4 separate regions of the Homo sapiens genome follow, and regions 1, 2 and 4 are each linked to region 3. Evidence: fine-mapped expression QTL. A gene starts in region 3. Each other region holds a variant in brackets. All regions are shown on one strand. Distances are from middle to middle. Region 1 has its middle 21 kb from the start of THSD7B. Region 2 overlaps THSD7B (thrombospondin type 1 domain containing 7B). Region 3 holds the start of THSD7B (thrombospondin type 1 domain containing 7B). Region 4 overlaps THSD7B (thrombospondin type 1 domain containing 7B).

Region 1 (8,350 bases), 20 kb before region 3:
TCTCATTGTTCAATTCCCACCTATGAGTGAGAACATGCGGTGTTTGGTTTTTTGTTCTTGCGATAGTTTACTGAGAATGATGATTTCCAATTTCATCCATGTCCCTACAAAGGACATGAACTCATCATTTTTTATGGCTGTTTTCTGAATAAAGTAACTAGCCTATGGCAGGCTTACATCCAGAGGTAACCATGGTTATGATTATTATATTCTAGATGTCTTGGGCTAGGTCCTTGTCAAAGCAGAGCTGGAGTCAGAATGCAGAGTTCTGGGTGATTTGAGAAATGACCTCCGAGAGTAGGAGTAGGGGCTGAGAAAATAGAAGAAATAAATAAATAAAGGAGAACAAATAAAGTTTACCAAGTTGGCTGCAGCTACAGATGATGTGTTCACTCTTGTCAGAGACTTCTGGAGACTCTTATGAAATATGTCTCAAAATTGTCTTAAAAGGGAAGTATTTATTCAGCGACTCCCAGGCAGTGATGGGCAAGAAGAAAGAGGCACGTGACTGGGGCTTTAGCTTGAGTTTGGGGCATGGCGTTGGCATTGTTAAGTTGCAGCCAAATGCAAGGGGTGGGGTCAAGAGAATATGCAGTGTTGCACAGAGGTGTCAAATAGGCTGGAGGACATCCAAGAAAAACAAACCCAGGCAGTCACATTGCTCACAAACTTGGGAAGATGACAAACACATGTAAAATATCTAATGCATTGATAACTAAATTTCAAGTGAGAATTCAAGGATCTGCTGGTGATAGTAGGCCTGTTTTAATTGCTTCTGCTGCACATCCTTTGAACTCTGTTCTCATATCACATCAGCTGTTGGGGTTTAGGGAAATAAAAAGAACACAGAAGGTTCCCAACCTTGAAATGTAATAAAAATTGTAGGAGTAGATCATTTTTGCTGTCTCTTCCTACTCTCGAATATTGTGTAAACCATTCTCTTAAAGCAGAACTCCAAGAACAGAACGTTTTGGATTTAGATTGGTCAGCAAATCTTTAACTAGAGAAGGAAAATGAAATATAGATGTCTTGAATTGCAATTGTGTTCAGAATAGAGCACTCCTTACAATTTTTTTGGACCAAAAGATTGTTTAAGTGTTCTGAACTGGTGGAAAATGATTTTAGAGAGAGAGAGAGATGCCTTCTATTCTCCTACCCCCATAGCTATTAGAATTCACATTTATAACAACTTTTTGTCCTCTCCAGAAGAAAACCCTTATTCACCTGTAAGAATAGCCAGTGTAATATTAGCTTTTACAGGTTTCCTGGTAAGCCTCTATAAAGAACGTCTATATTTCTATAAATACTGTGAGTGTGCTGGCAGAAGCTTTGGGCATTGAAAGCAACATTCACAATGAGGAAAAATTTGAGACTCAACTGTCATTCAGGTCTGTTTTAAACATCTTCTAAAAAGAGTGAAATTCACTTTAATAAGTATGCTGAACATTAAAAAAATATATATTCAAATGTGTAATTATAGACCGTCCCTGACTCATATGATGGCTCGCTTAATGATTTTTTGACTTTACCATTGTGCAAAAGTGAGACACAGTTGGTAGAAACTATGTCTGCTTTTGAATCTTGGTCTTTTTCTGGGCTAGTTATATGTGGTACAATATTCTCCTGTGATGCTGGGCACTGTTGGAGAGACATTCTGCTTTTCACTTTCAGTACAGTATTCAGTAAATTACATGAGATATTTAACACTTGATTGTAAAATAGGCCTTGCATTAGATGATTTTGCCCAACTGTAGGCTAATGTAAATGTTCTGAGCATGTACGCTGGGCTAAGCTATGATGTTTGTCAGGTTAGGAGTATTAAATGCACTTGACTTGCAATGTTTTCAACTTAAAATATTTTCAGCTTCTGATGGGTTCATTGGGATGTAACCTCATCCTAAGTAGAGGAACATATGTACACACTACTGAGCAGGCAGTATATGTAATCTAAATAATGAAAAATTTATGGTCCTTTATTACTTAGTGAAGTATTTTAAAGTGACAGGCTTTTATTATTTAGTGAGAATTTAAGAGCTCATTGGCTGAAAATAGTGAGTGAAAATTTTCATCTCTTTTTCCAAGGTCATGTCATAATTTAAGGTTTTTTTTTAAATGATATAAACTCTACAAAGCAAAAGGGAACTGGGATTTCAGATATTTAGATATCTAATTCTTGAATTATTTCATGTTTTATATATCATTAATTAAGGAATTAACTACTTAATTAATTTTTATTAGTACAACTTTATGGAGTACGTGTGAAATTTTGTTACGTGTATATAGTGTATAGTGATCATGGTAGGATATTTAAAGTGTCCATCATCTGAGTACAATATATTTTTGTTAACTATAGCTATCCCACTCTGCTATCAGACACTGAATGTATTCCTCCTGTTTGTATACTTTAACCCACTTCTCTTCATCCTTCCTTTCCCTCACTCACCTTTTCCATTACTTTAGTCTTAATGAAGATATATGTATGTGGGTGTTAAATATAACATGTCTCACTTTAATGGCATTTGTTTATGCCTAATTTAAAAATAAAATTGTATATATTCATTTTAATCAAAATGTCTATCAGTATTTTTTCAGTTTATTAATTATTAAGTTGCTTTTCTGTTTAAAACTGATTGTAGGTTCAGGATTCTAATTTTCTCTAAATGCCTATAGTTTTTTAAATCTTCCATGATAAAATTACTTGATATTTTGGAGATTCTTTTCCAAAAATATATAAAATTCATCAATCATATCATAGGTTTTCTTTGACTAATATGAAGGATTGAGCTATCAAAAAAGTTGGGTTTAAATTAACTCTTAATTAGGAAGAGAAAAAATTTAAATTCTGTGATTGTGTTAATGGCAAACTGGTAGAACATGTTTAACTTTAGCAGTTAGGTTTTGTCTATTCTCAGACATCTTTTGTCTTCCTCCTAATTACTAGAATGTCAGTGCAGAACTCAGAAATTAAAGCAGGAGATGAAATACTGAAATAAGTCTTTTGTTGTTGTTCTATTGGCTTGAGAATGAGAAACAGTTTCTGATTCTCACAATAATGAGTCAGAGTCCTTGTTTTAAGATGATAAACTGGAATATTTTGGATAAAATGCTGAGTGAATTAATGCCATTTCCGGAGTTAATCAGCAGTGCCTGTGTCTGCACAGAATTATGAGTTCAATTCTTTCAACTGAAATAATTGGTCACTTCCAACAATAGATTTGAGAGATTTTTAAGGTCAAAATGAAAAAAGACAGACTGTTTACATGCATTACATATTCACTGGGACTGAATTTTCCACTGTATTGACTAAATGACCTAATTAGCAGCTAGGTTAAGCATTCTGTCTACATGGATGACCTTCCAAGCATAGCCCACACATGGAGAGTGCAAGACCAATGTCTGGAGATATTTAGTTTGTGTGAGAACATGGCCCTATTTTGGTGGAAAGCCAGCTTCTTGCCTTTAATGTTGCTAATTGTGTCTAAGCTCATGTTCTCCTTTTATTTCGGAAGCATTGCTGCTTGTTACATATCTGTAAAC[A/G]CCTGGGAAATGACATTTCTAAGAATAAGAATTACACTCCCTTGGGAGATAAAGATTGGTCAAAAAAACCTTTTATCTCCTATAATTTTGGAGTCCAGCCTGAGCGAACTGTTGGCCTTATTTCAAGGGCTATGTCTCTACCAGTCCATCACGTGGGGATGGCAAATAAAATATTTAAGTAGTGTTTTTGGAAACTTCCGCGTGTTTTAATATTTTTTATCTCCTCTTTCAGACAAAACATCTGAACAAATGAATGTAGATGCTGTTTTAAATTGGGCAAATTTTAAAGCTGAGCTACAGACTTTCAAAGTGAACTTGTAGATTAAAAGAAGTACAGTATTATGTTTTCCTCTGGCACTACTTTTAGAGGTTTCATCTCCCTTCAGATCCATGTGTACGTGTCAGGAATTGGCTACTGGTTCACTGTTATCAACTCTCTTAGAAAGATTCATTAATTTTATAACACAACATCTCTTAACAATGAATAGTTCTGCAAACAGGAGCTTCGTTATTTTATTCATCTCAAGCCTGCTTGGCATGCTGCAGGATTCTTTGGGAATAGAGCTTTGCAGGATGAGACTATTCCCATTTTCAATAACTCTTGCATCTGTTCTTGCAGTGTCATCAGTAAAGCAAATAATAAACCACTCTCAAGAAAACCTATAAAAGGGCTCTCCTCCCTATTCTGAGCTACAGCATAATCCTCCTAAAGACCACTCTTATCAGATTCAATGAAACAGTGTAAGCAAATTATTTTGGCTATTAACCAGTCAAATCATAGAAGGAGAATGAAAAAAGATGCCTGTGCTTTCACACTGGGGAGACCTTGCTTTAAGTACTAAATCTTGGATATGTTACTCGATCTCTCTGAACTATAGTTTCTACATCAGTAAAATGGGGACAACAGTGGCTTCCTCATAGAAGTGACATAATAATTGCATGAGATGGTAAAAGTAAAGTGTGAATGCACACCATCAATTATTGGCTGATATTTCAGTCAACAGTTTTATTAGTTAATAGACTTCCTGCTTTAAGTGATGAAAATCCAACTCAAATAGCTTAATAATGTGATTTACATGTCACATAGCAAGAAGTCTGGAGGTAAAGCAGGCACAAGTTCGGCAATTTCAATGGCACAATCACGCCCAAGGAGGTCCAGGTCCTTCCAACTTTCCACTCGAAAGTTCTGAATATGCTTCCTGGGCTAACTCCCTTCACAAGTCACAAGATGGTCTGTTTAGTTTTAGGGGTTGTATCTTCATTACTAAATGTCCATAGTCAGAAAATGAGGTTTTGTAGCCTAATATCTCTTGTAATTGTTCAGAAGTCCTTCCCAGGAGCCACCTGTCTCCCTCATTGGTAACTTGGTTGGGCTTGTGTCCCATGCTTATGTCCCTGCTCCCCAGACACACTGGGAAGACAAGTGGCATCACCATGATTAGCACTGACCAGTCCTGACTTGTCCCCTGGGTTAGATGGGGCTGGAGATGGGGTAGGCATCTGGACATACCTCCTGATTCAAAGCTATGCAATTACTATTAACAAGATATAAAGAGAAATAGTTGGTGGACAGATAACCAACAGTTTCTTACACAATTACCCTCTTAAACTCTACTCTAGACTTCCCATAATACCAAATGCTGAGAGAACACAAAAGTTGCTCCTTGTAAGGTGTAAGAATTGAATTGGAGGAGACAAAAGGTTTGAAGCCAACTCTAATGAAGTGTCATACGGTATACAGCAGTGCTTCTCAGGCTTTAACGTGCATACAAATCCCTTGGGAATCTTACTAAAATGTAAATTCTAATACAGTAGTCTGGAGTGGTGCTGAGATTCTGCATTTCTAAATGCTTTCAGGTGATGCTGCTGCTTCTGGTATGAGGACCACACTTTAAGGAGTTGAGACATAGACCGCATGTGATGCTAGATGTGTAGGAAGAGTGGAATCTGGATCATTCTGAAGTGTTTCTCAGAGGTGGCACGATACTGTGTGAGCCCTAAAGCTGATACGATTTTGATAGATGGAGAAGACAAAATATAATATGATTTGGGATCTTTTATGGAAACACATTTGCTAACTTGATAATACTAAGGACAGTAATGTGGTTATTAAGACACAAAAACAGAGTATATATTTCCTGGATTAAACAGCAGGCACACCATGCCAGAAAGCCATGGCTGTTAGGATTACCTGCTCTTATATACTTATTTTTTGTCTTAATGCCTAAAAAGAAATAGACAAAGTAAAAGTACATTTGTACCTCAGAGCAGAATAGCAAGTTACAATAACTCAACCAGGATTTGGATATATTTTCATGAATGGGAACAGGTCTTTTCCTAAAGATAAATTAACCTTTTTGAGATTTTTTGGTATCTTTTATCCCTCAAAATAACCCAAACAAAACTTTACCACTATCTTAATGGTTACATTTTTTCTTTCTTAATGCTATGTGTTTTCTGAATAAATTAGTCACATGAGTTCTTAGAAAATCAAGAATTCAATAAGGGAAACCAAAGCAAAGAGTAGATATGTTCTTAAAATCAACTTCCTCTTAAAAAGCGTGTACATATGTGGGTAAAAAGGCCATTACACCAGTTGACATTGGTTGACCAGCCAATAGCCCTGCTGAGGCAACACATCCATGTCCCTGAGTTATAATGATGTCATTTTTCTTTTGGGGATGTAACTGGAGACTACTTGAGAGGTCAAGAACAACAAAGCTATAAAAGGTTAAAAGGAAAAAAAGATAATTATGGAATGTCATTGCTGACATGTTTCTTGAGAAGCTTTCCATCCTCCCCCGTGAAGGCCAGGAGGCTGGTGGTTAGGAACATCAGGGAGACTAATGCATTTTTACATGGGATAGAATGAACAGCAATGGGGAGTGGAGAAAATAGAGGAGATACTAGCTCTGAATTTTGGATTATTATGCATTTGGTGGCTTGTACTCTGGAATAGTATATTCTACTATTACACATTATATGGTATTGTTGATCAAGTGAAAAAATGATAGGATTGAGTAATCAAAATAAATTAAGCGTGGAGGTCAGGATGCTAGCTTTGGCAGTCCTGCGAATTACCTACCTGGTTCTCAGTTTCGTCACCTGCAAAATGAGAGAGTTGAACCTGACAGTATTCCCCAAACCTGCCAAACATCAGAATAATCCAAGGGGTTTATTAAAAGCACAGATTCCTTGGATGCACCAAATACCTGCTGAATTAAGATTCCTGGAGTGGGGTGGGCTCAGGATGGGGCCCAAGCAATATGCACTTTTAAAAGGCTCCTTTGCTGATTCTCTTGTACCTCCTCTTCCCATGTTCGAGGACGCTAAGATCCAATTCAGCTCCCCAATCCTACGATTTTAATGTGACAGGGTGGTGATTTAGAAATAGAGAATGATTGAAAGGAAAATTATCTGGATAGCCACAACAATAGTATTCTTAAGTTATCAGTTTACTGTGAAATGGTTTTCACAGTGGTTGGGCTCCATGATTTGCCTCAATCTTGCCGCATGTCACCTTTGCCTTTGGGAATGGCCACCTATCAGTGCAAAACTGATTTGGAGGCAGAGAGGAGAGATAAACCACTTTATTTGTACCCGGAGATCCTGGTCTGCATTTATTCAGGCACAATTAAAAACAGTAGGGTTTCCCAGTTAACATTTTGTAAAGCTCACAAAAGATTGTTATTTTGCTTATTGCTTTGAAAGCCTGTCTGGGAGGAGGCATGTTTTGATGAAAGTATTGTCTTAAATCTGCAAACGCAAAATTGTGTGATGGCTTATGCATCAGAGGGTTGGTTCTAAAGCACTTTGTGGTCAACTCCAAGGGCCAGTTGAGAGCAGGAACTGTTCTTTCATCCCTTCTTCATAAGCTGCTGAATGTGTGCTTCTTAAAAGGACAGGCCTGTTTTCCTTAAAAGCTATTGTTGGAGTTTTGTAATTTTGGTGGTGCTTTTACTGCCTTATTGACTGTTAAAATGGCACCCTAGAAGTTTCATTTAGGGGAAATACATGCACATCTCATAGGGTGGGCGGACCTTCTCTGTATCTGTGCCTTTAAACTAGGCCAGTGGCTGCTGCACACAGCTGGCACTCAGATCCAAGGAGCTTTGCTGTTCTGGCTGATTTCTATGTTTGCGACAATTACCCTCTCTCACCACCTCCAGCCCTGCTCTCACAGCCCAGTTGTGTTAGTTCCTTTCCCCTCTATTCCATGTCTGTACTTACCTGGCCTCTGGCCTTCCCCATGTCTTCTACTCTTAGTCCTGAGGACAGAGTTAGAATTTGAGTGGTTTTTTTTGTCCCTGTTTCTTAGACCCAGGTAGTGATTGCCTTCTGACTGTATCTGCTACTTCAAGTGACTGTCCGCTGAAGAAAACTCCAGTCCCTATTTTTACATCATGGATGGATCCTTCCCCCTCCCTCCCTAATTCGTACCCCACTAAAACAACTTCCTGACATTCGGTCTCTGTGCCTGTGCATGGGGACTAGACTGATGTATGAGATTTGTCTTATTGCAGACATATCACAAGATGGTAGAATTAATAGTCTAACTCACTGCCTATCTAACTTTAATGTGCAGATGAATCATCTAGGGATCTTATTAAAATGCAGATTCTAATTGGGTAGGTCTGGGTGGGCCTCTCTGAGAAGCTCCTAGGTGATGCAATGCTGCTGGTATACATACCACATTTTTTGTAGCTAGGGTATAACTGATCCCAGAGGCAGTAAAATATAGAGCAGAGGTTTTGAACCTCTGCACTGGAATTCTTTGATGTATGGGGCTGTTCTATGCATTATAGTGTGTTTA
Region 2 (8,350 bases), 120 kb after region 3:
TCTCCTGGTATTCATTACTTCTTTCCCTCCTTACAGTGCCATCAAAAAGGTAACAATATAATTTTTTCCTATTTGGTTTTGCTTTCAAAGCAGATTACTTATGTATGACTGACATTTTAAAAGTGAAAGAAATCTAAAAGGTACAAAATTAAGAACAAAAGCTCCAATGTATCCCTTTCCAATCTCTTTTGTATCCTTCAGAAAATTTCCTTGTACATGTAAGTACACATTTATGCATGTTTATGTGTATGAATCACACAGAAGATACACATATAGTTATTAATTAGGTTCTGTTAAAAAAGAAACAGCACATGCGAAGTCGGCAGTTGAGAAGAGTTTCATAGAAGGACATTTACAAAAGTAGGCAAGTGTGAGCAGTGTGTAAGGACAGGAACAAGGGATTGTGCAGTGACCCTGAACTGTATCAGTTGGGAGCCTCTACAACTTCTGGGTATGTAGGGGCCAGGAGAAAGAGTGGTTCCCAGAATCTGGAGAGGTGCTTGACAAATGCTGTGGCTTTTAAAGGGATACAGCCAACCTGCAGCAAAATAGGAAGGAGGCCAGGGGAATGAAGGGCTCCACCTCACTTTCCTCCAGCTTTCATATCTGCCAGGCCTCCCATTGGATGAATTCAACCAAAAACCACAAGGCAGGGGAGCCCATGGATATATCCATTCAGGTAAACATCTTGAGCAGGAAGCAGGATGGAGAATGGTGCACCTGAAAATATTTAATTCTTCCATATGTGCATGTATGTATACACACATATTTCATGTAAGTGGAATCATACTCTGCACTGCTTTCTGCAACTATCTTTGATCATATAATGATATATTGATGAATATTACATATTAATGCACATAGGCCAACCTCATCTTTTAATGACTGCATAGTATTCTTTAGCATTTTTATTTAATAAATTTATCTAGTTTTCCTGTTGCTTTATCTTCTCTTCCTCTATTGCTTGGCATTTCAGTGGTTTCTAGTTTTTTTGCTATTATAAATAATGCTGACATGAATGCAGTATTATTTTAAAGGTAAGCAATAATAAATTGATTTAAGGAGTTATATCCCTAGAAAAATTCTAGTTTATAACCTTTGAAGACAACATCAACATCTTAGAATCTGTTACCTATTTACGGATGAGTTTAGTGTATTTCATTTTGATTTTTAACACTGTATTGCAGTTGAAATTAGCTGTATTTTTAGGGTATGTTATCAAATCCAAGAACTCAGGTCCAGTGTAATTTGGAATTTGAACAGATTTCCATGGAGACCCAGATAACTGTACTTTATTGTAGAAACCTAGAAACCATTCTCTGGGTTTTGATTGCTGTGTCAACCACTTTACTCTTTTGCTGGTGTCTATTGTTCCCCACCCCCACACCCCAAATCGGTAGGTCCGATGTTAGTCAACCTCATCCAAATTACAGGCATTTCTAAGTGAGTCCTGGCTTTGGAAAAACAATGGATTGATGAATAATAAGTGAGTGTATTATGTTTTTTAGGATTTCCATACTGAGGGAGAGTCTGCTGAGTTGTAGGCTGCAAGGTCATTGATCTGTCAAGGCTGTTAAATGCCTATCATTATTGTGATGAGATCCTATAATCTATATTGGTGTCAGACACTCTGTTAGCTGTGTCAAGAAAGAAGGATCACGTCAGCAACAGTATCAGATAAGGGACAATGTTGTTTGCGGTTTTAAGTTTCAATATAAAACTATTCATGCCTGCCTGCTTTGTGGAGATGAACAGATTATGGTCTCTGATCCCACAGTAAATTGTGCTCTCTTAAAAAATTCCTCAGTTTTGGTTCTAAGAGGTTCACTTATTTCTAGTAATACTTATTGAGTCCTTACTGTGTGTCAAGCATTGTTACAAGTACATGAGATAAATTGATTGAGAATAAAATAGGCAAATCCTCGGTCCTCATAAAGAGGGCAATAAACATGATCAGTAGTTAAATAGAGTATGCTAGATGAGGGCGAGTGGTAAGAAGGAAAAATGAGGCCAGGAGGAGGGATATGCAGTGGGAGCAGGGAGACTAAAAGCTTAAGGAGGTTGTCCATGAGCTGCCTGAGGAAGTGAATCTGAGTAAAGACCTGAGGGAAGTGAGGGAGCCAGCTGTAGATATATCAAGGTGAAGAAGAACATCCCAGATGGTGGGAACAAGAAGGACAAAGGACCTTAGGCAGGAGTGTGGGAGGCATACTTGAGGACATGTGGGGAGGCCAGCATGCAGGAGCAGAGTGAACATGGGGAGGGTGATGGGAGCTCAGGTGAGACGGGTAACGGGGTCCACATGGGGTATGTCCTCATAGGTCAGAATAAGATTTTGTCTTTTACTCTATGTGAGATAGAAAGACATGGGAGGGTTTTGAGAGGGTGGTGACATAAGCTGACTTTCTTGTTGACTTTCTTTTCAATAAGATTTGAAGAGGATCCTTGTGGGTGGCTGGCTGAGAAGAGCAGGGCAAGGAGATGAGGTAGGAGGCTACTGCAGAATTAAAGGGAAGAGCCATGGTGATAGCTTGAACCAAGGCCATGGCAGTGGAGGTGCGGAGAAGGAGTTGAATCTTGGCTATATTATATTTAAGGCCACAGTTATCAACCAAGGGTGATTTTGCCGTGCTGGGGACATTTGGCAATGCCTGGAGACATTTCTGGTTGTCAAAACTGGGGGTGCTACTGATGTGTGTTGAGTAAAATCCAGGGATGCTGATAAACATTCTAAAATGCACAGAGCAGTCTTCTACAATAAAGAATTATCAGGCCCAAAGAATCTCAACAGTGCCCAGGTTGAGAAACCCTGAGTTAAGATAAAGCCATCAGGATTTATTGATGTGGGATGGGTGATACTGACTTTGCCCTGAACAACTGGAAGAGTGGAGTTGCTGTCATTTAATATGGGCTGAGAAGGAGCTGGTATACAGGGAATATTAAGCACTCAGAATTGGGCATGCTACACTTTTGATTCTGTTAGAAATTCTTGTGGAGGTGTCGACTAGGAAGTTATGGGGTCTGAATTCAGGAGAGAGGTTTCTGCTGGAGATATAAATTTGAGAGCTACTACCAAAGAGGTAGGATTTAAATATGTAGTCCTAGAAATGAAGAGATTAGCTTGAAATTTGTGATCTGGCATAGGTAGAGGATAAAATTCTAATATATTTCCTTTTAGGACTGAAACGATGTTAAAGAAAATTGTTGTGGCAAAATATACACAACATAAACTTTACCATTTTAACCACTTCAAAGTATACAATTCAGTGATATTAGTACATCACAGTGTGGTGGAATCATCACCTCTATCTAATTTCAGAACATTTTCATCACCCCAAGCTATATTTTGCAAGTGAGCTTATAAAAAGTCTGGAAAACAAATTATGTTTTGAATAATACGTTCTGAAATAGAAGAAAACTCCATATTTG[T/TTGTG]TGTGTGTGTGTGTGTGTGTGTGTGTGTGTGACAGGCTTTTAAAATAGCCTTCAGTCATCCTAAGAGATTACTCTTGATATAGTTTGGATGTTTGTTCCATCTAAGTCTCACATTACAATGTAATCCCCAATGATGGAGGTGGGGTCAGGTGGCAGGTGTTTGGATCATGAGGGGGGATCCCTGAAGAATGGCTTGGTGCCATCCTGGCAGTAGTGAGTGAGTTCTTGCTTTATTAGTTCCTGAGAGATCTGGTTGTTTAAAAGAGAATGGCACCTACCCCCCATCTTGCTCCCTCTTGCCATGTGACACACTGGCTCTCCCTTTGCCTTCCTCTCTGATTGTAAGCTTCCTGAGGTCTCACCAGAAGCAGATGCTAGCACTGTGCTTCCTGTACAGTCTGTAGAACCATGAGCCAAATTAAACATTTTCTTTATAAATTACCTAGTCTTGGGTATTCCTTTGAGAAATGAAAACATACTAATACAAGTATAATACTAACACTAATACAGACTAATACTAATACAGGTAAACAAATGTTCAAATCCTGGTTGTCTAAGGGGAAAAAGTTGTTTAACCTCTCTGAGCCATATTTATCCATCTGAAAATGGATATTGATAATAAACACTTTACAGGACTCTTTGAGAATTAAGTAAGACACTTTGAAATACCTAATATATAGTGGCTATTCAATAACTGTTAGCTACTATTTCTATCATTGTTGTATAATAATTTCAGGTTTAAAATATTTACTTGTGCTTTTATGTTATACAATTTCTGTATACTTCTCTTAGACATACAAAAAAGAGGGGATTATTTGACAGATATGTGCACTTTATTAATAAATGGTCAAAATTATTTCACTGGCTTTTTTAGGTCTAAAACTTTATATATGCCAAACTCTAGGAAAGTTTTAATTTCAGTAGCTCATGCTCAATGAATAAAAAGGGTGAGGATAATGACCTGTTTCTAAGAACTAAGTATATAAATTGGAATTAATATTTTTGGAAAAAAGAGACTATGAAAATTGCATTGCATAAGGAATAAAGTATCTTACATATATTAATATTTAGTTATAGCTTAAATAATAGTGTTTTCAGCATTGAATGTACTTTAAGGAAAAAATTGCATTATGTATATTACCTATTTATATATTAAAGGTTAGGAATTTTAGAGAAAATAAAATGTTCTTAGGAGAGAGCTATTTTTTAAAATATGTGCTAGAAGTTCATGAAATTTTTTTCTGGAAATTTTACTTATGTTGACATCATTTTAATTACTTCCATGGATATTGGTTTATCTAAGAGGCATGAGTGTTAAATCAGCAATATCCAAAAGTATAGACATATGGCCTGGAGTTCACCACTAAAAATTCTAATTTTTTTATAGACCACAGTCACTAATTTTCCAAGGTTTCCAATAGGTCAGAAAAACATCCATCTTACCTAAATTGCATAAAATAAATTACTCTGCTATATTTTTTCTAAGTAGTATTAAAATATAGGCTCCCTGAGGACAGGGCATTTTGCTGGTTTTATTCACCAATATACTCCAAGTGTCAAGAATATACATAACCTATATAATAAGAATAAAATATGAAAAATATCCCCAGCACATTAAATAAAATAAGGGACACTGTCTTTTGGGGTGTGTGTGTGTGTGTGTGTGTGTGCTTGTGTGTGTGTACATGTATTTAGGGGAGTTGAGAAGAGATGAAAGAGAAAATATGACCCATCTTATTCTAGAGCTTGTAGTATATATTGAGGAGAGGATATAAAATGACTATAAATTAAAGTCAAACTTATAAATCAGTAAATGTGAAAATGTATTTCCATGTCACTTTATTCCAGTACCATTTCTGATCATCTCTGGAAAAGAGGTTGAACTCAATCTTTAAAAAACAGGCTCACATAGTTAAAGATTTAAATATTATTCTAAATCTTATAACAAGATATTATAGTTATATCTCACCTTCCAGTTCATTTACATAAAGAGACAGTTTCAGCTCTTTTTGCTGTTTATTCTGATATTCACCTTCATATTTCTAGGTAATATGCTCATGATTGATACTTCTTAGTTGATAGATATTAGATAGTTCCTATTGACTCTCTGTTATGTTAGTTAAGGATTTATGTCTCCTAGATCTACTCCTCTCCTCCTTACTACAGTTATTCAGAATAGTTCTATCAAAATATTTAAATCAACAAACAGTGCCCATACTCTTTGTAGTGTCCGCTGCTGAGCCAAGCAGTGTGCTGTGCACCTGCATCCTTTCTTGTTCAGCTTTTTCTTTTACATGGAAATGAAAAATTTCCTTCTTTATTGTTTTGCTTGGTTTTCTTTGAACCTACTGCTGCTTTTCCCCAAGGCTCCATCTGATATGTCACATGCCCATCATTAATTTATTCAAAGATTCAAGCGCAGTTCCAAGTGCTCTATTATATTTTTTTCTTTGGGAGATTTTCCCACAGTCCTGTCCCCCTGCACAGCCTGCATAGTCATCATCTGTGGAACATCCTTTTGCTCTCGATCATCTTGAATCCCTTGTTTCCTGTTCTGTTTCTCTTCTTTGCCTTTATTGTCGTGTTTTCCAGAACTGCTAAACGCATCCTCTAGTACTGCTAAAATAGGGTGTACTGGAAGTAATTTTTCAAATCCGTTGATGTCTGAAAGGGTCTTTGTGCTTGTCATATACTTGATTGATAGCTTGGGTGTGACATTCAAGGTTAAAAGGCATTTTTTCCTTCAGAATTTTGAAAGTCTTGCCCTATTGTATTATAGTCCCCAGTGCCATTACTGAGAAATTTGACGCCATTCTGATCCCGACTTTTTGCACATTGCTACCTGTTTGCTTGTTATTCTTTCTCTGGCATCTTTTTTTATCCATGAAGTCTGAAATTTCGTGATTATATGCTTTGAGGTAAGCCTGTTTTCTTTATGGTGCTAGATGTTTGTAGGATATTTCGATTGGTGTACTCATTGCTCATTCATGTCCATGTCCTACTCCTTCTTCTTCTTCTTCTTCTTCTTCTTCTTCTTCTTCTTCTTCTTCTTCTTCTTCTTCTTCTTCTTCTTCTTCCTCTTCCTCTTCCTCTTCCTCTTCCTCTTCCTCTTCTTCTTCTTCTTCTTCTTCTTCTTCTTCTTCTTCTTCTTCTTCTTCTTCTCCTTTCTTCTCCTTTCTTCTCCTTTCTTCTCCTTTCTTCTCCTTTCTTCTTCTTCTTTCTTCTTCTTCTTCTTCTTCTTCTTTTTTTTTTTTTTTTAAGACGGAGTCTCACTCTGTCGCCCAGGCTGGAGTGCAATGGTGTGATCTCGGCTCACTGCAACCTCCACCTCCTGGGTTCAAGCGATTCTTCCGCCTCAGCCTCCTGAGTAGCTGGGATTACAGGCATCCACCAACATGCCAGGCTAAGTTTTTGTATTTTCAGTAGAGACAGGGTTTCACAATGTTGGCCAGGCTGGTCTCGAACTCCTGACCTCAGGTGATCCACCTGCCTCAGCCTCCCAAAGTGCTGGGATTATAGGCGTGAGCTACCGTGCCTGGCCATGTCCTACACTTCTGAGATTTTTTTTTTATGCAATTTCCTCTTCTCTGTTGTGTGAATTCCTTCTGAAACTCCTTAGACAAAGGTTTGACCTCTCTTACTGATCTTCAATTTTTAGATAATTTCCATATTTGTGTTTTGTTTGTATATTTATTTTAATGTCTAAATTTTTTTTCTACTTCATCTTTTAACTATTATTTTGAACTTTTTTTATTTCTACAATCCCTTTTTTTAATTTGTAAGGTCTTTTACTTGTTCTATGATTTTTTTAAATTTCATCTTGTTTCATAGATGTAGTGACTTTTCATTCAGAGGATATTAAGGACAGTTTAATCTTTTTCCTTTCATTCTCTGCTTCCTCTGAGTCATTTTTTCCTGTTTCCTTCATTTATGTGTTTGATCATGGCCCCTGACATAGTGAGCTTTCTTCTAATGTCTATTAATTATTGGCTATCTCTTTAGTGTTTCACATTATTAAAAGCGAGGCACTAAAACTGATTCAACATTCCATGTACATGACTCAGCTGTTGGGCTTCACTGTCAAAATATTTTTGTGTGGAGAGCTGGCTTTTTTATTAGAGTATGGGTCCCTCAAATAATCTATATTTATCAATACCCAGAGTTTTTTCTCTGGAAGTCTATTCTTTAAGGTGGAGGCTAAGCAGCTGTAACAAAGATGCTCCCAAATACAGTGGTTTAAAAAGATAGAAGCTCAGACCTCTCTTATGTGAAATCATGTAGTTAGTGGTCCAGACTGGAGGCTCCGCTCCCTGTGTCCATTCAGCCAGGCACCTTTCTTTCATATTCGGGAAAGACATCATCATTCTCTGCCCATCCAAGCTGGGTCACAGGCATTTCCATGTTCTAGTTGATGAAAAGAGGTAAGAGCTGAAGTCCAGAACAACAGATTTCAAACAAGTGACACAGCAGTTCCATCCATGTTGCAATTCTCTATTGCTGTGTAATAGCTCACCCCAAAATAGTGATTTAAAACAGTAACACACCAATTTTGTTCACACATCAGTGGGTCATTAGGCCCTGCTAAGTGTTCTCACTTGGGTTCGTTCTCTTGTGCCATTGTAATCAGCTGGTTCAGGGGCTGGGGTCATCTGGAGGGCTTCATCACTCACATAGCTGGCACCTGGGCTGGGAGGACTTAACTAGCTGGGGTTGGAACAGCTGAAATTCTTCAGGTATCCCTTTCTCTCTGTGTGGTCTCGCCATATGGAAGCTTCAGGGCAGCCGGGATCCTTACATAGGTGTCTGAAGGCTCTCAGAGTAAGCTTCCACAGAGAAACAGAGAAGAACTGCTTGGCTTGTTCTTAACTAGCCTGAGGGCCATGCATGGTCACTTTTTCTGCCTTCTGTTAGTTACAATTAA
Region 3 (8,350 bases):
GAGTATCGTGTGGCTTTGTGCCCAGCAGAAGAGGATTAAGGTTGCCAAATCTTTGGATAATAACAGGCTCCAATCTACATAACACCTGGTCTTTACAAACCAAGTCATTATGAATGTGATCCAAGTTGTCACTCCAGGGGTTTTATTATTTCCACATTAGTCGGTGTTGTGTCTTAGATATATGGAGGTTGCCGGCTTGTTTAGTGTGGATTGAATGACTGCTTCTCCTTTCTTTGCTCTGGTTTGGTAACGTTAGATAGCAGTGGGGAAGAAGGGATCATTGTACTATAGATCTCTTGGTCAGTCAATATTATTGGAGATGAGCAGCAAAACAATGAACCCAGATAATGCTGGGCATTAGAGTGGGTGGTACAGACTTCTAGGACAGGGATCAGAAGCAAGGGTCCCAGAACTGACTGGATGGGGCTGATCACTGTCCAGCCTCTCCACAATGCTGCTATATGACAAGAAGACAGAGCCAAGATCCTTCCAAATATTCATCAAACCATCTGGTTCTCTCTCCATTAAGCCACTTCCATCTCTTCCCTGGACACTGGCATCCCTGTTACACTCTTGCCATTTTCTTGGTTGCGGCACAGCATCAAGTGATCTTTTTAAAGTCTAAATTAGATGATATTGTTCAAAGAGATAAAACCACCCATTGGTCACAAGCACCTGCCCCTCTGCCCCTGCCTGCCTTTCCTATCCCACTGCACTGCAGTTTTTCCAGGCTTACTCATCTCCGGCTACCTTGGCCCCCGATGGGTTCTTCATGTGCCAACCTCTTCCAGCCATAGGCTCTTTGGCCATGTATCCTTCTTCTTCCCCTTTCTTGGCTGATGCCTGCTTATATGAGATGCAGTGTATCTTGGTGATTAAAAATGCACACACTAGTGCCAGACTGCCTGGCCAAATCCTAGCTTTTCTACTTATCAGCTGTGTGACTTTGAATAAGTTGCGTAAACTCTGTATGCCTCCACTGTAAAATGGAGTTGAAAATAGTGTCCACATCTTGGGGTAGTTATGAGGATTAAATTATATATATATATATATAACATTTAGCCTGTTGCCTAATATCTAGAAAAATCTTCATAAATGTTACCTCTCATTCATGATTGGGTCTCAGCCTAAATGTCATTTCCTCTGAGAGCTCTTGCCTGGTTCTGACCTTCCTTTCTACCCCTGCTCCATTGCATTCCTTTTTTATTGCAGGACTCTTTTCCTTTTCTTTCATATTATATATTTAGGATCATTTGCATACCTGTTTATTGTCACTGCATTAGACTATAAATGCCATGAGGGCAGGGACTCTGTATCACTGAATAACCAATACCTAGTGCAGTGCCAGGCACATAGTAGACACTAATCAAATATGTTGCTGAGTGAATGACTGAAGCTGATGGTTCAGGACTTCGTTTGTGAGTGTTGAGCGTCTGCTGGGAAAGCATTGGTGCCTCAGAGGGACTGAACTGGGCCAGAAGCCAGTGGAGTTCCACTACACTACTTTTCAATACATTATCTTTACATTGTATTTTAAGATGTTGACACATCAAAATCAAATTACTGGACCAAGCTCAAAAGTTACATTTATATGCCAGGATTAAATGTTCTTTTTTGGCAGAAAAAATGTTCAGATTTGCCACAGAATCTCTTCCAACCTGGAACTGGCCTGAATGAATTGTGTAAATGAGACAATCATGGTTCTTTTTCTCTTCCCCCTTTCCTCCTATTTTGTCCCCCAGAGTGACTGAATATTTGACTCAATTCGCTGCTTCAGTGGATGGGCCATTGTAGACCTGGGCAGCAACTCCCTGGGTGGCAAGTCCAAGATACTGGCTTATGTTTGCATTTATCACTTGTGTTTTAGATTGGGCTTCTTTATCTATGTGCCTTCTTTAGCTCTTCCTTGTTTAATGCCACTGATTGTTTATTTCATTTCCATAGCACTTTCCCATCCAAGCTTGTTAGACTATATGGAGAACATCATGTTCAGAAAAAGCAGTGGCAAACACACACGACAACAACAAAAATGTAAATTTACACTCTGCCTGTACTTGGCTAGCATAGGGTTACTTTTCTCCGTGATTCCTTAATGGGAAGACTCATTAGGTCTTCCCAATGGAGACCTAATCTCAACAGACTTTCTCCTTCTATCCCCTCTCTTCTGCCATTGTATTTTTGTTTTGTTCATTCTCATTGGAAGTCTGGTGGTGATTGGGGCCTTTGGCATCTGTGTGTGCAGGATTATGGGAATTTCTAATCTCAAGCTTATTTTCCAACCCTGGCACATTCAACTATTTCTTACACATAATGATGCCACCTTTGTTTTTTTTTAATCAAGCCTACCTTCTTCCAAATCCTTTCTTTGTTCACTTATTTTTAAAAATTTCTGTTCCTGCTCTTACGGTCTTCATTACTAATATTCCTTTCCCTGCCTAGGTTATCCTTTTAATGTTTCTAACCTAATCTAGATTTTGAGAGCAGTGTTTTTATTAAGAACCAAAGCTAACTATGTTGGCAAGAAACTCATATTATGAGTAAAATATACATTTAAAATATAAATTGGGAATTTGAGCTAGAAATGGAAAGAGAAAGTTAGAATGAGTCTTGTGCTTGCATTCTCCGTCTACAAAATTTGTATGTAATCACACAGATAAAGTTCAGACATCTTATACTCTTTGACTATACTGAAATATATGTTGTCAGCAGTGCCTTAATGAAAAGTGATTGTTCTCTAAAGGAATCAAATGTAACAAGTTTAACATTCATGGTTCTTTATTTTTCAAAAATAATTTAGATTTCATTCTCCTTTTTTATTTTAAGAAGCCCAACAGAATTACCATATGACTATAATCTCATATCCTAGATTCAAAAACCAGGAGACCAAACACAAACAATGCCTCAGAGGAGAAAAGTTGTGTCTTAAGAATCAAAGTATTCTTGGGTATCGTAAGTGATTGCTGACGTAGAGCAAAGGGTTAATGAGAATGGGCTGGCATATTAAATCAGAATGCACGTTGAAAGCAAATTGCCAGCCTAAAGGAAAATATACGTATCATTGTCTCTGGTGAGGGAGGGGGACAAATAACTACTAAGATGTCCATACATGCCATACTCAGAAGTCATCCTTGATATCTTTTTTTCCAGACAGATTGCAAACACAAGTCTTTCTCCCATATGGGGGTGTGTGTGCAGGGGGTGTGGCCTGAAAATGCAGCATTGATTCTGGGAAAACTGAAACCTGGGAAGCCTGGGTATAATAGTTCAAGAAAACAGAAATGTTTTTCTTTGGCTGTTGTTCCTGAAGTTACTTAAATGAGACTCATTGGCTATTGATCTGTATATATTGAGATTACAATAAAACATAATGGACCAGTTTCTCTCTCCCCTGGGTCACAGGATTGGCCTTTTATCTCTTGAGAGTAATAAATCATGGTCTTGGATTTAAGAAAATATTCTGGGATCTGGTTGGCAGCTGATTTATTTTTAAGACAGTGATGTCAGGAAAAAAAAAAAGCATAACCCAGAATGTGACTGTAGTGGGAGAATAGCGATTGCTGTTTAAAATATTAAGTAAGGCTTCCCTGCTTTCAGAACCCATCATCCCACAGCAAGCTGAGTTGAAGCCCCTTACCAATATATTCACATCTTTCTTTACAATGGCACTTACATTCTTTTGATTTCTTTTTATCTGTGACAGATCCTAGCTTCTCTATTTATCTCTTGAATCTAATTTGCTCTATGACATCAAGCTTTAATTTTATCATTATTATTTTGCTTCATTTTAAGCACCCATGGTGTGCCAGGCATTGGATAAAATAGAAAAGATACAATCCCTGCTGTCGCTGGGCTCACACATTTAAAGAGATTTGACAGGCAAAATATCCTGTAATTGGCAATAGGTAGTCCTCATGCTTCCCCCCGCCCCTTCTCCCTTTTGAAGCAACTTCATCTCTCTGAACAAGCTTAAGAAGTTCCCTAGATCAAAGGTGTCAAAAACCAGAAGGGTTTGGAACAAGTGTCAGAGAGTAAGCAAACGACTTTCTGAGCTGTGACTCTGCTCCTCGACTGCCCACGTGCTCTCCGCTGTCTGCACTCCTGCCTCACCTGGGCTGACTCGGACTCTCCACCTCCTTTGCTGCTTCCGGCATGAGCTACCCAGGAGCCTAAGGCGCTCCTTCCCGCAACTCCGGTCCCCGCGCCCCGGGACTGCAAATCCTTTAAACAGAGGCCCCAGAGCTAGGGGTTTTCCCAGGCTCTGGTGGGCGTGGGCTGACAGTCGCTGGGAGCCCCGCAACAGGGGGGATGTCCAGGCAGGTATGCACCCAGCTCCCGGCGTTTCCCGGAGTCACCACAATGTTTCCCTTTCTCTCTCCCCCACGTATGCTGCTAGGGGTACTCCCCAGATAGGATTTTCTTTGTCTTTTCTCCTAGTAACACCGAAGCCCTCTCGTGCCCGGGGACTGCAGAGGAACGCCAGACCATCCGGACCTTGCGGGATGGCTCGGTGTGTGTGTTTTACTGTGTGTCGGAGTGTCGCGCATGTGTGCGTGTTGGGGCGCGTTATCAACAGGGGCCTAGGGCACCCCCACTCTTTCTTGCTCTCTTCCCCCATCACTTCATGGACCTCCGAGGCGCAAAGCGCTCGACCCTCTCCTGGGCTCAGTGGCTTGGGTACTCCGGGCTGAGCTCAGCTGGGGAGTCCCCTTACCCAGCCCGCACCGGCACCCCGAAGCTTCAAAGTTGCGGCAAACAGTTGCGGGGAGCAGAGGAACTGAGGTCCAGGCCAGCGCGCCCGCGGTCGCTCGCCTTGGGGAGCAGGCTGAGCCGAGGGTCGTGCGGGTGCGCGGCAGAGGCGGTAGGAGGCGGAGGAGAGGGGGGAGAAAGAGGGGGCGGTGGGGAACAGCTGCCGGGGTAGGCGAGGCGCAAGGTGGCTCCCCGCGGCCCCGCGCCCCGCGGCTCTCGGACGCACCAGGCAGCCAATGGCTGCGCAGAGGTGTACAGCAGATGGCGTCTGACTGCGCCGTTCCTTCCTCCTCCTCCTCCTCCTCCTTCTCTTCCTCCTCCTCCTTCTCTTCCTCCTCCTCCTCCTTCAGTGCTGAGGAGCCAGAGTCGCCGCCGGGTTGCCAGACGCTGGAATGGGTGGTCTTCCGACACACACCACCATCTTTCTTGCGCTCGGGAAGCTCGGGGCTCAGCGGCTCCCAGAGGTTACGGCGGCGGCTCTGGCGAGACGGGTGAGTGCAAGCACGCGGAGCCCCGAGTCGGGGATGCCGGGCCCCCTGGCCGGCCGACTGGGGCGCGGGGTGGCAGCGCCGGGGAAGGGGGCGCGCTGCCGGCGCAGACTTTGCTCTTTCCTCGCCGGACAGCCATCGTCGCCCCTTCTCCCAGCCAGACGCGGGAACTTGGAAGCGGATCTTCTCGGACGCCTCTGGCTTGGGGCTGCGGGAAGCGTGGGCTGCCCGGGGCGCAGTGTGCGGAGACCCTCTAGGCGGGCGGGGACGCCCCACGCGGCGACCTGAGCACCGACCTCATGCAACGGGACCGAACCTTGGGACCCGGGCAGCAGGAGCTCTGTTCCCTTCACCTCCAGCTTGGTTTGAGGGATACTGATGAAGGAAACCGGGGGTTTCCCGTCCTGCGCGGAGAGCCTCGGCGCCCAAAATCGAAAGGCCGGGAGTTGTTCTGCAGGCTTTGCAAACAGGTTGACTGAGGGTTTCCTTTCCCGTAGCGCTGACTGCGAAATCTGTGCATAGGCGTTCAGTGCCAGTGGAGGATAGCTGAGCAAGCCAAGAAGTTTTGCAGCTTCCTCTGATTTATCGGTGGAGTGTCAGGAGGCTGTAGCAACAGTTTACATTTCCCCTGTCCCTGCGAGTGGCTAGGGGCAAGCTGGGCTCGGACGTGATATCCTGCTGTTTGTGGAGAGGAAACTGGGAACGGGGCTTGAGAGTGAGGGGCAGGGAGGGGGGGACAGGCATATTTTCTACTGCATCGCCCATCTGCACCTGTCCCCTTTGCTGTCTTACATGTCCCATAGTATTAAAGTTATTTGAATAAGCAAATGAACCCCGCTCTTTGGTGACCGCGTATTTTGAAGTTGGAAAACTTTGCAGGGGACGAGGGAATGTTGAGGAGGGGGCGTTAAGCTCTCTCACTCTATCCCTTTTTAAAGACAAGAAAAAAACTTTCGTTGGCGAAGGTGGTACTTTTTTCTTTTGGAATGTCTGAGCTCAGAGCTTCCCATAAGAGGTATTGCGATTCAATACTGTACAGTCAAGGTGAAGTTCCACTAAGATTATGGGACCGTGGCATATTCTACGGAAGATACCAGGGTTCCTTGGCGCTCTGTTCATTGCCAGGGTGGTCTGCTGAAAGCCGGCAGTTTCCCACCCTCAGACTCCTTGGAGCTCTTTAAATGACGGTCTGCCTGGTGTTTCTCAGCGGTACACCTGTGAGTGCTCTGTTATCATGGAAATGGTAACCCATGCAGGTAGGGCTCATGCCAACCAGACTGTGGTGGGGTGTGTGTGTGTTTGTGTGTGTGTGTATACATGCGCGTGCGTGTGAACGTGTGTGTTTGGAGTTTCCTTTTGACAGGTAATCTTTGGATGTCAAAGGGATACAGTTATTTGTCTGGCAGTGTCAGGGCAATCTGAGTTTCTCGAGTAACTAGGAGGAGGTAATCTCCAGGGAAGCCTTTTTGTGCTCTTGACTGTCTACTCAGCAGTTGGTGAAGGCTTCCTGAAAGCCACTTAGGGTGTTACTAACCAAATCAAGAAGTCTTACTCAGTGGTGAGTGAAAGCTCGTGTCTTTGTGGGTTAAAAGCTGTTTATAAAGTTTCTGTCTTGAGGCTTCACTTTGACAGACTGCTGTTTTTAAACCTTAGTGCCATTAATAATAGGAGTCTTCTTTTGAAAAGTAATGTGGCCAGTTCTCTGTTTTCTGAGGGTAGTTGATCTAATCTGGTAGATTCCCTGGAATTGTTTTATTTTCTATCCCTGGGAAGTGTGTGTGTGTGTGTGTGTGTGTTGTGTGTATTTGTGTGTGTGTGTTTTCTTCATCTACCTGCTGAGAGTTGAGGGTTAGAAACTCTTTTTCATGCAAATTTAAGTGAAAAAAATTATGAAGAAAATTCTTCTGACACTGTAACAATATACACAGATACTTCTGAAAAAATTGTAGGTGTCATTGTTGACTTTAAAAACATCGGATAGTCTCGTATAAATCAGCACAGACAGATCCAGCAGCCCTGAACACCTACAAACCATTCAGGGTTTTGGATATTCTAGATTAATCTGTGATAAGGGCTTGGAGATACGTGGTCCAGGAAAGGGCTGTCTACTGTTGGTGGACTTTGATAGTCTGTTTTGAGGGTTCATAATACGATGAGCTCACTTTATGTCAACCTTAATATTTAAATCAATACTTGAGAAATGATCTTACAATATTTCTTAATCTTCTGGCCCATTGTTTTCCATCAAAGTTGTTGATTGTTAGAGAGTTGAAAGGCTAAGAAAGAGGAACACTGTTAGACAGGTAGAAAATAATTACCGATCATATAAACAATGTAAATACAGACTCTACTGTTTGAAGACTGACATTAACAAATTGGTAACGAGAGGTACCTTTCTGTTCTCTGCTGAGTGTGCCTTTTGAGAGAAAGTAGGGAAGGAATGAAAGGAAAATGGTACTAAATTGTACTTCATCAGAAGGGCTATGAAGGACCTTGTCTGCTTGCTACAGATCCTATTTCTGAAGGAATAACTCTTTTGTTAATATCAGCAAAAAGAATGTTGTCCTTAAATGATAGACCGAAAAAGCAGAATAAAAAGATAGGCTCTAAGTTAAAGGAGGGAGAATGTCCAAACAAGAACAATTCTAAAGCATGTCAACTCACTTTAATTATACTTCACAAATTGAAACTGGAGTTGTATGATTCCTTTAAAGAAAAAAAGTCTTGCCAAAACTTCAATTCTGCTGTTCTGCACACTTTACAAAGATTAGGCATTAAAGTAATAACATTATGTCAAAAGTTTGAATAGAATGATGAAGAATATTTGACTGGTCTTATTTAGTTAACTGTGAAAATGACAAATGATACAATATATTAAATACATGATTAAGACAAACAGATTAAAGAATTCTAAGTAGTGACAACTATATTAGTTGATGGGAAAAAAAGAATAGCACTATTAAGGCTTCAGAGATGCTCTACAGACAAAGCATAAAGGCTGGGTCTTTGAATAACTATTGGGTATTGTATTATCAAAAACTACATGAGTTACTTAGATATGCTGTTGGATTTTTGAATATGGATTGCACATAAGTGCTTCATATTTTCAAAAGAAA
Region 4 (8,350 bases), 30 kb after region 3:
TTCCTGTTGTCTGTGTTAAAATATTTTCTCCATAAAAAGATGAAAGTTTTTGGAGATTCAAAGACTGTAATTTATACTTATCTCTGCCATGATAGTTAGCATATTGGGGGTAGTAAAAATGGTACTTAGGATGTCTAATCCAAATGTATCCAGGTTTTCCAGAGAAAAAATACAGATCAACAAAAAGAGCAAATAAAATCACAACATAACCTAGAGACCAAGGACGCTACAAACTGTGTATTACCTCTAAATAGAGAAACACCCAAGTGTAGCAGAGGAAACTGAGAAAAGAGGAGAGGGGAAACAGCGGGAGTTGATGGAAACAGAAAATATTCACTCAATAGAGGGAAAGTACCACTGACATTGGAGGCCTTAGGAGGAGGTCTAAGACTTTGTAGACCAGTGTGCCAGCTACTGGGGCACTGGAAGGAAATAACTGGGATGTTTGTGGGACATGACATGGCTGTCTCAAGAAGACATTGCATCTGGTGGAGAAGGGTGACTTGACATGGGGAGCTTCCATTGGAGAGTTGGTGATAATTGGAAAGAAAGAAGAAAGAGGGAATAATTAAGGATCCTACAGAAATAAATGAATAGGATAAAATAGAAAGATATAGCAACTTCTAGGTTTTCTCCCCTCCAAAAATACAAAACTACACTTTTTAATACCAGTAGTCAGTGCTCTTGGGCAAGGAAACCTGGCAAGGAATAGTTATGCAACCATCTCCACAACCCGGTAATTTTATTTTAATGACATCAAAAAAACAGGGTTTTTAAAAAAAATTACAACTTTATTGAGATGTAATTCGCATACCAAAGAGTTTACCCATTTAAAACGTACAATACAATGGTGTTTAGTATATATATGAAGTGGTGCAGCCATCACTACAATAAATTTTAAGCTATTTTCATCATCCAAAAGGAAACCCCATGCCCATTCACAATCACTCTCCCTTTCCTCTCAACTCCACTCCCTCCCCCGCCCCCCATCCGAGGCAACCCTAATCTACTTTCTGTTCCTATAGATCCTATAGATTTTCCAATTCTGGACATTTAATATAAATAGAATTATACAGTGCATGATCTTCTGTGACTGACTCATTTCACTTGGCATGTTTTCAAGGTACATCTGTGTTCATGAATATGTACCAGTATTTCTTTCTTTTTATTGTCTACTAATATTCCATTGTATGGATACACCACGTTTTATTTGTCAGTTGGTGAACATTTATATGTTTCTGCTCTTTTGGCTGTTATGAATAATGCTGCTACGAACATTTATGTAGTGTTTGTGTGGACATGTTTTCATTTCTCTTGGGTATATACCTAGGATTGGAATTCTGGATCATATAGTGACTCTATGTTTAACCTTTTGAAGAATTATCAGCTTGTTTTCCAAAGCATGATTTTACAATCCGACCAGCAGTGTATGAGGGTTTCAATTTCTCCACCTCCTTGCTAACCTTTGTTATTATCTGTCTTTTTTATCCTACTGGGTATGAAGTGGCATCTCATTGTGCTTTTAATTTGTACTTTCCTGGTGGCTAATGATGTTGTGCATTTTTGCATGTCACAATCTAGGATTGAAATTCCTGGATTCAATCCAAGGGTTAGAAGACTTCCATCACCCCCTAAAATTTCCTCTGTGAGGAAACTTAAGTGCAAATTGTAAGTGAAAGGGGCCAATCTGAAAAGGCAACATAATGAATGATTCCAACTATATGATACCCTAGAAAAGGCACAACTATGGAAACAGTGAAAAGATCAGTGGTTGCCAGGAGTTCTGGGGGAGGGAGAGAGAGATCAATAGATGGGGCACAGAATATTCTTAGGGCAGTGTGACTATTGTGTATGAAACAATAATGGTGGATACCTGCCATCGTACATTTGTCAAAACTCATAAAATGTATAACTCCAAGTGTGAACCCTGGTGTAAACGATGGGCTTCTGGGTGATGGTCTCGTGCCAATGCAAGTTTATAGATTGTGACAAATGTACCACTGTGGGTGGAATGCTGGGGAGGCTGTGCTGATGGGGAGACAGGGAGAGATGTGAGCACTCTGTATTAATTCTACTGTGAACCTAAAACTGCTCTAAAAAATAAAGGTTATTAAACCAAAGTTCCTCTGGGATTATTTTCCCCATTAATCAGCCTCTGTTATTATAAATCCCCATTTCAAACCCAAATAACCATTGATCTTTTTCCTGTCTCTGTATTCCTATCTCCTACTGCCTATCCTGAAAATTTTATAGAAATGGAATCATACAAATACAATGTTTTGTGTCAGACTTCTTTCTCTTACCAGGATGTTTTCAAAATTCATCCATGTTATTGCATTTATCAGTAGTTAATTCCTTGGTATTGCTGAGTAGTATTCCTTTGTCTTGATATGTCACAGTTTGATTATTTCACCATTTGAAAGTGATTTGAATTGTTTCTGTTTTTGGCTGCTATGAATAATGCTGCTATAAACATTTGGCTACACGTCTTTCTGTGTGGGCATATATTTTCTTTTTCTTTAAGTAAATAATATATGAGTGGAATTGCTGTGTTTTAATATAAGTTTAACTTTTAAGAAACTGCTGAATTCTTTACCAAAATAGCAGTAGCATTTTGCATTCTTACCAGTAATGAATAGGGTTTCCAGTTTCCTTACAACCTTGCCAATACTTGGTAATGTCCATCATTTTGATTTTAGCCATTCTTGTGTTTATGTAAGGTATCTCATCTTGGTTTTAATTTGCATTGCCTACATGACTAATGAAGTTGAGCATATTTTCATGGCTTATTTTCCATTGGTGTATCTCCTGTTGTAAAGTCTTTATTCACAACTTTTGCCCATTCTAAAAATTGGGTTGGAAGTCCTTTATCATATACGTAGTTCATAAATATTTTTCCCAGTGTGTGGGGTTATCTTTTGCTTTGTTTAATGGCATCTTTGAAGAGTAAGTTACTTAATTTTGATACACCAAAACTCACAGATTTTGTCTTACTTATGCCATGTTGATTGACTTTTGGTTGTTAAACCTATCTTGCATCACTGGAATAAATACCTCTTGATCATGTTGTGTCATCTCTTTATATATTGCTGCATTTCATTTACTAATATTTTGGTTAGAATTTTTGTATCTTTGTTTATGAGGAATAATGATGTGTAATTTATTTTCTTGTAATATCCTTCTTAGGTTTCAGTGTCAGGATTATCCTAGCCTCATAACATAAATTGGAAAGTATTTTTACTTTTTTTTTTATTCCATAAGGGAGTATGTTTAAGCTTGGTGTTGTTTCTTCCTTAAATGTTGGGAGGCATTCATTTGTAAAGCCTTCTGGGCTTTTGTGGAAAGGTTTTAAATTATAGATACAAATTTTCATTGTTTTTCATACATTTTGGTAATTTGTGTTTTTTTTGTGAATGTATCCCTTTCATCTAGTTTGACAGATTTATTGCTATAAATTTGTTCATAATATTCTCTCATTATCTGTTTCCGTGTGGTGATGCCCCTCATTAATTCCTGATATGTGTGCTTTGTTTTTTTTTTCTTGTTCAGCTTTGCTATGTGAGACTAGACAAAAATTTTGCAAATCTTTTCAAAGAAAGTCTGACTATATTGAATTCTGTATATCTGCTTTCTGTGTCATTAATTTTTATCTTACCTTTCTTATTTCCTTTTTATGTTTTCTTAAATTTCAAATTTTTTTTATTTTTCCTCTAGGCAGAAGCTTAGATAATTGATCTTTTACCTTTATACTTTTCTAATATATACATGTAAAGCCAAAATTCCCATTAGGCATTGCCTTAGTTGCATTCCATAAGTTTTAATATATTATATTTTTATCTTCATTCACTTCAAACATTTTGTAATTTCATTTTTTTTCCTATTTTCTTATTTAGAGGTATATTACTCAATTTTCAAAAAGTTGGTGGATTTTTCTAGTTATCTTTCTGCTTTTTATTTCTAAATCAATTCCGCTGGGGGCAGAGTGCATAATCTGTATGATTCAATCCCTTGAGATTCATTGTTTTGCTTTATGACCAAATGCATGCTTTATTTTGGAAATGTTTTATATGCCCTTGAGAGGAATGTGGATTCTGCAGTTGTTGAGTATCGTTT[T/C]ATACATATTTGATTAGGACAGTTTAGCTAATTGTGTTCTTCACATCTTCTACATCCTTAAGTATTTTTGTCTGCCATTCTTTCAGTTCTTGAGAGAAGGAGTTGTTAAAATCTCCAATGATGATAGTGGATTTGTCTAGTTCTCTATTTTTTTCCCTCAGATTAAAAAAGAATTAGGATATCCATGTCTTTCAGTTAAATTGACACTTGTACACTTATAAAATATTCCTATTTATGTGTAGTAAAACTTCTGGTCCAAGAGTCTACTTTGTCTAGCATTACTATAGCCATACCTGCTTTCTTGTGGTTAACATCTGCTTGATATACCTTTACCATCCTCTACCGTTAATTTATCTATATACTTATATTTAAGATATTTCTCTTACAGCCAACTGTATTAATTTCCTATTGCTGATGCGACAAACTGTCATAGCTCGTTGACTTAACAACAGCATAAATGAATTTTCTTACAGTTCTGGAGGTTAGGAGTCCAAAATGGCTCTCAGTGTGCTAAAACCGAGGTGTCAGCAGGGCTGTATTTCTTTTGGAGTGTCAAGGGGAGAATGCATGTTCTTGCCTTTCATCTTCTAGAGGCTCTCCACATTCCTTGGCTCATGGCTGCTTCCATCTTAAAAGGGGCTGTTCGAGGCTTCCTTACGTTGCATCCACCTGATGCTGACTCTCTTGCATTCCTGTTTGACTCAGAAGGACTCCTGTGATTATGTTGGGCCCATCTGGATAATCCAGAATAATCTTTCTGTTTTAAGATCCTTAGCTTAATCACATCTGCAAAGTCCGTTTTGCTGTGTGAGGTATCATATCCACAGGTCTTGAGAATGACGACATGGACATCTTTGTGAGGGCCGTTATCCTGCCTATTACACTAGCAAATAGTTAGGTATTGTCATTTTTATTATTCTGACAATTTTTGTCTTTTAATTTGACTATTCATCCATTTATATGTAATACAATTAATGGCACAGATGAGTTCAGGTCTACCATCTTGCCTTTATTTTCTATTTGTTGCATTTTTTACTTACTCTCACTCCAACCCCTCTCTCTTGCCTTTTTGAGAATTAAATGAGTATTTTATTATTCTATTTTTCTCTTCTAATCTTTTTAGTTATGCATTATTTTATGATTTTAGTGGTTACTGGAGAGATTTCAGCATGCATACTTATTATAGTTTATCTTGAATTAGTTTTATCATATACATTTTTTAAGTCCTTGGATGTTAACTCTAATACTTGGATCATATGTGAGTCTGCTTTTATTTTTTCCCCTTTGGTTATCAGCCTCATTTGCATATTACATACACACATAATCATATCTTACTCTCATTTACCCTCATCTCACCTAAAAAGTGTTCTGTCCTCTCTGAAATGTTAGTTCATGTAAACTTTATTGCTCCTACTGCTTTTTGATTTTTTTTTTTTAGGTATGAATTTTGAAATGTATCCCTTTTTAAAAGTAGTTTCCGTAGGACCTCTACAGGTTTCCATGACCTCTACAACTATCCTAAAAACACAAGACAGGAAATATTATTTATGAGGGAGAAAAGTTAAAGAAACTGGCATAGAGGATGGCAGGCTGATTGCCAGGGACACTGGCCTGAGCAGGGAAATGGCATCCACTGGTCTTTGAGGACACTTTCACTTGTTTTCCTATGATCTGGTAATTTCTTCGTGGGATGGTTTGTAAATTTTGACCTCGCATGGAAACTTGCTGGCGACCGTGGAATTTTAACAGTAGCCTCTGCAGCCATCTAATTCACACAGGTCTGAGGAGTTTTCTTTCAAAACTAGACTAGCTCTACCAAGGCCCCACTTAAAACCTTTTCAGAGGGGATTATGAGTGTTGGGTGCTACCTGTAGGTGACAGTAGAGAGTCATTCAGTTGTGATAAAATCTAATTCAAGATTTTCAGAGATTAAGTTCTAAATTATAAAACTGAAATATTCCCCAGTATTTTAACCTTTGTGCTTCTTATCAATTCTGGGAGTTTTGAGTTCCTCTAAAGTCAATATTTGTTTAGGTTTGGAAAAAGACCCATTATGAAGTTATAAGCCTGTTACAGTATGATTTCTGTGAAGGCTGAAGTCATGAATTTATCTTTCTCCTTAAAAAGCTTCCATTTTAAAGACTTGTGTTTTTTAATAGTAATTTAAAATTATAAACATAACTTTCTCTGCTTCTATATCTGGGACATATATGAAGAAGCCATAAATAAGGTTTGGAAGAGCTTGGGAGGGTATAACTACCAATTTTACTGGCCAAGATAGTGATATCATATTTGATCACACACACACACACACACACACACACACACAACCTAAAAAAACTGAAGACTCATTTGTTTTTGTCATGAAAAGAAATAATAATTAGGAATAAGTGAAATGTCTGGAACTTTTTTTATAGAAACCAAATTTTGTTCACTTGGGGACTTTTCAAGGACAATAGAGAGACACTCCTGTATATCACAGACCTTCAAATGCTGGAACAAGTTATTGAGAGTGGGTGAGAAATTATCATAATTATTCAAGTTTCTGCTGGTTGGTTTAGATAACCATCATCCCCTTCTTCCCTCAAGTCAAGGGAAAGATGTAAATAAACACTTTCTCTCACTCTCTGAAGGCCATGAGTCACTAAACCACACAAATTAAATAACCCTTCCATGTTTTGAATGAATGGACTTAAAAACCATTGGAGAAGGCGTAAGTCTTTCCATAGGCAACTCCATCTGAGTGAATAAACTCAAAGAAGATGTCTGGCTAGTGAAGTCTTACTAGTGCAGATGGAACTTCACAGAAAGACCATAGAGTAGGGCTTAGTTAAAACGAGCTTGTTCATGCGTTGCAGATGGGTAGGCCATTGATTATACATAATGTTGTTCATGGTCTTTTTGAGATTGGTGAAATGGAAAGCAGTACAATTTCATGCACATTTTAATCATTTTTATTGAGTGTTGGCGTTTGCATTTTTCTGAACCACTGGGGGACAAGTCATGGTTTTCTTTTTATTCTTTTTCCTTCAGTCTTATGATTCAAACAATGCATGTAGCCTGGTACCAAGTGATGCTTGTTTCAGAGCATTAGTACCTTAGAAGGAAAATGACATTGCCAAGTACTCTCTACCATATGCAAATACTTACAGTTATTTAACATCAAAACTTGTATATGAGATTTGTTGCAAACCTGTACTAAGTGGCCTGGTGAATTTTCTGTCCTGCTGTTTGTTATGTCTGACTTCTATTTGGAGGTGATTTATATATGAGACAAGTCACTTTCTCACTACTATAATTCTAGACAAGTATCTAGCAAAATTATGCATTCCAGTAGACTTATTTTTTCTTTCCCATGCTCTCTCTTATGACCATTTCCTACTTGGATGAGCATTTCTTGGGCCCTTACAATCAAGGATGCCTGTTGGTTTCCACACTATGCTGAGCTCTAAAATTATACCTTTTATTCAAACCTGATTCTTTCAGTTTGATTATTTTTCCACTCTCATTAGAATAACAGGGTTCAGAGTCTGGATACCTCAAATCTTGCATGTTAGCAACCCCTATTTTATACATTAGGATATGCCTGCCTTTACTTTAATGATAGACTAGGGTTGACTGGTTCCTAGCCACTTGGGAACAATTCCTTGAAAACTTTGTGTTCAGTTCTTTGGTTTCTTTGCATGATTATAGAGTTACAGATTGCTTTAGGCATCATAGATTGGATTTTGAAGGGAGCGATTATGATGGGTAGGGAAAGATCTCAGTATTCCTTAAAGGAGTCACTAAAGCATGTTGAGTGGGACAGTTCTTCACCTGTCAGACTGTTCTGCATATTCCAGAATGGTTAGTACCCCTATCTGCTTCCCTGTCTTCTAAATGGTAGTTTCTACTTTTAGTTAACGACTCCCTCCAGAGGTGGTACTGTCTCAGGTCAGGGACCACTGACCTGATATCAACACTGCGCTAAAAACAAAACAAAGCAACCACCTCCAAACTGGCCAGTAAACATTTTTACTCTCTTGCAAAATCAGCACTGGCTGAAGCCACACTGATTGTGACCTTTCTCTGTGGAACTTAGTTAAAACAAAAAAACCATTTGTCTGCAGTTTACCCAACCAATTTCCTTTGAAAATTCCCATAAACTCAAATTCCCATAAACATTGACCAAAGGACAATAGAAGTAGTTAGCAATGCTTTCTTTTTGGTTTTGTAGTCTACACACATTCCCTAACTT

The links.
Region 1: its variant is fine-mapped to the expression of THSD7B in lung (TOPMed, PIP above 0.99).
Region 2: its variant is fine-mapped to the expression of THSD7B in subcutaneous fat (FUSION, PIP 0.95).
Region 4: its variant is fine-mapped to the expression of THSD7B in left ventricle (GTEx, PIP above 0.99).

What each region holds. Positions count from the first base shown.
Region 1 is chr2:136,740,690-136,749,039 of GRCh38, forward strand. No RefSeq gene overlaps it. Among named protein-coding and RNA genes, the nearest start is that of THSD7B, 21 kb to the right of the region's middle. The variant A/G (reference allele first, on the strand shown) is at 3,538.
Region 2 is chr2:136,883,871-136,892,220 of GRCh38, forward strand. The region is part of intron 2 of THSD7B (thrombospondin type 1 domain containing 7B); the gene reads left to right. Among named protein-coding and RNA genes, the nearest start is that of THSD7B, 120 kb to the left of the region's middle. The variant T/TTGTG (reference allele first, on the strand shown) is at 3,430.
Region 3 is chr2:136,760,451-136,768,800 of GRCh38, forward strand. THSD7B (thrombospondin type 1 domain containing 7B) reads left to right here and starts at 5,095. Exons shown (of 28, transcript NM_001316349.2): 1 at 5,095-5,237. RefSeq lists an enhancer at 5,077-5,578.
Region 4 is chr2:136,790,571-136,798,920 of GRCh38, forward strand. All of the region lies in intron 1 of THSD7B (thrombospondin type 1 domain containing 7B), which reads left to right. Among named protein-coding and RNA genes, the nearest start is that of THSD7B, 29 kb to the left of the region's middle. The variant T/C (reference allele first, on the strand shown) is at 4,114.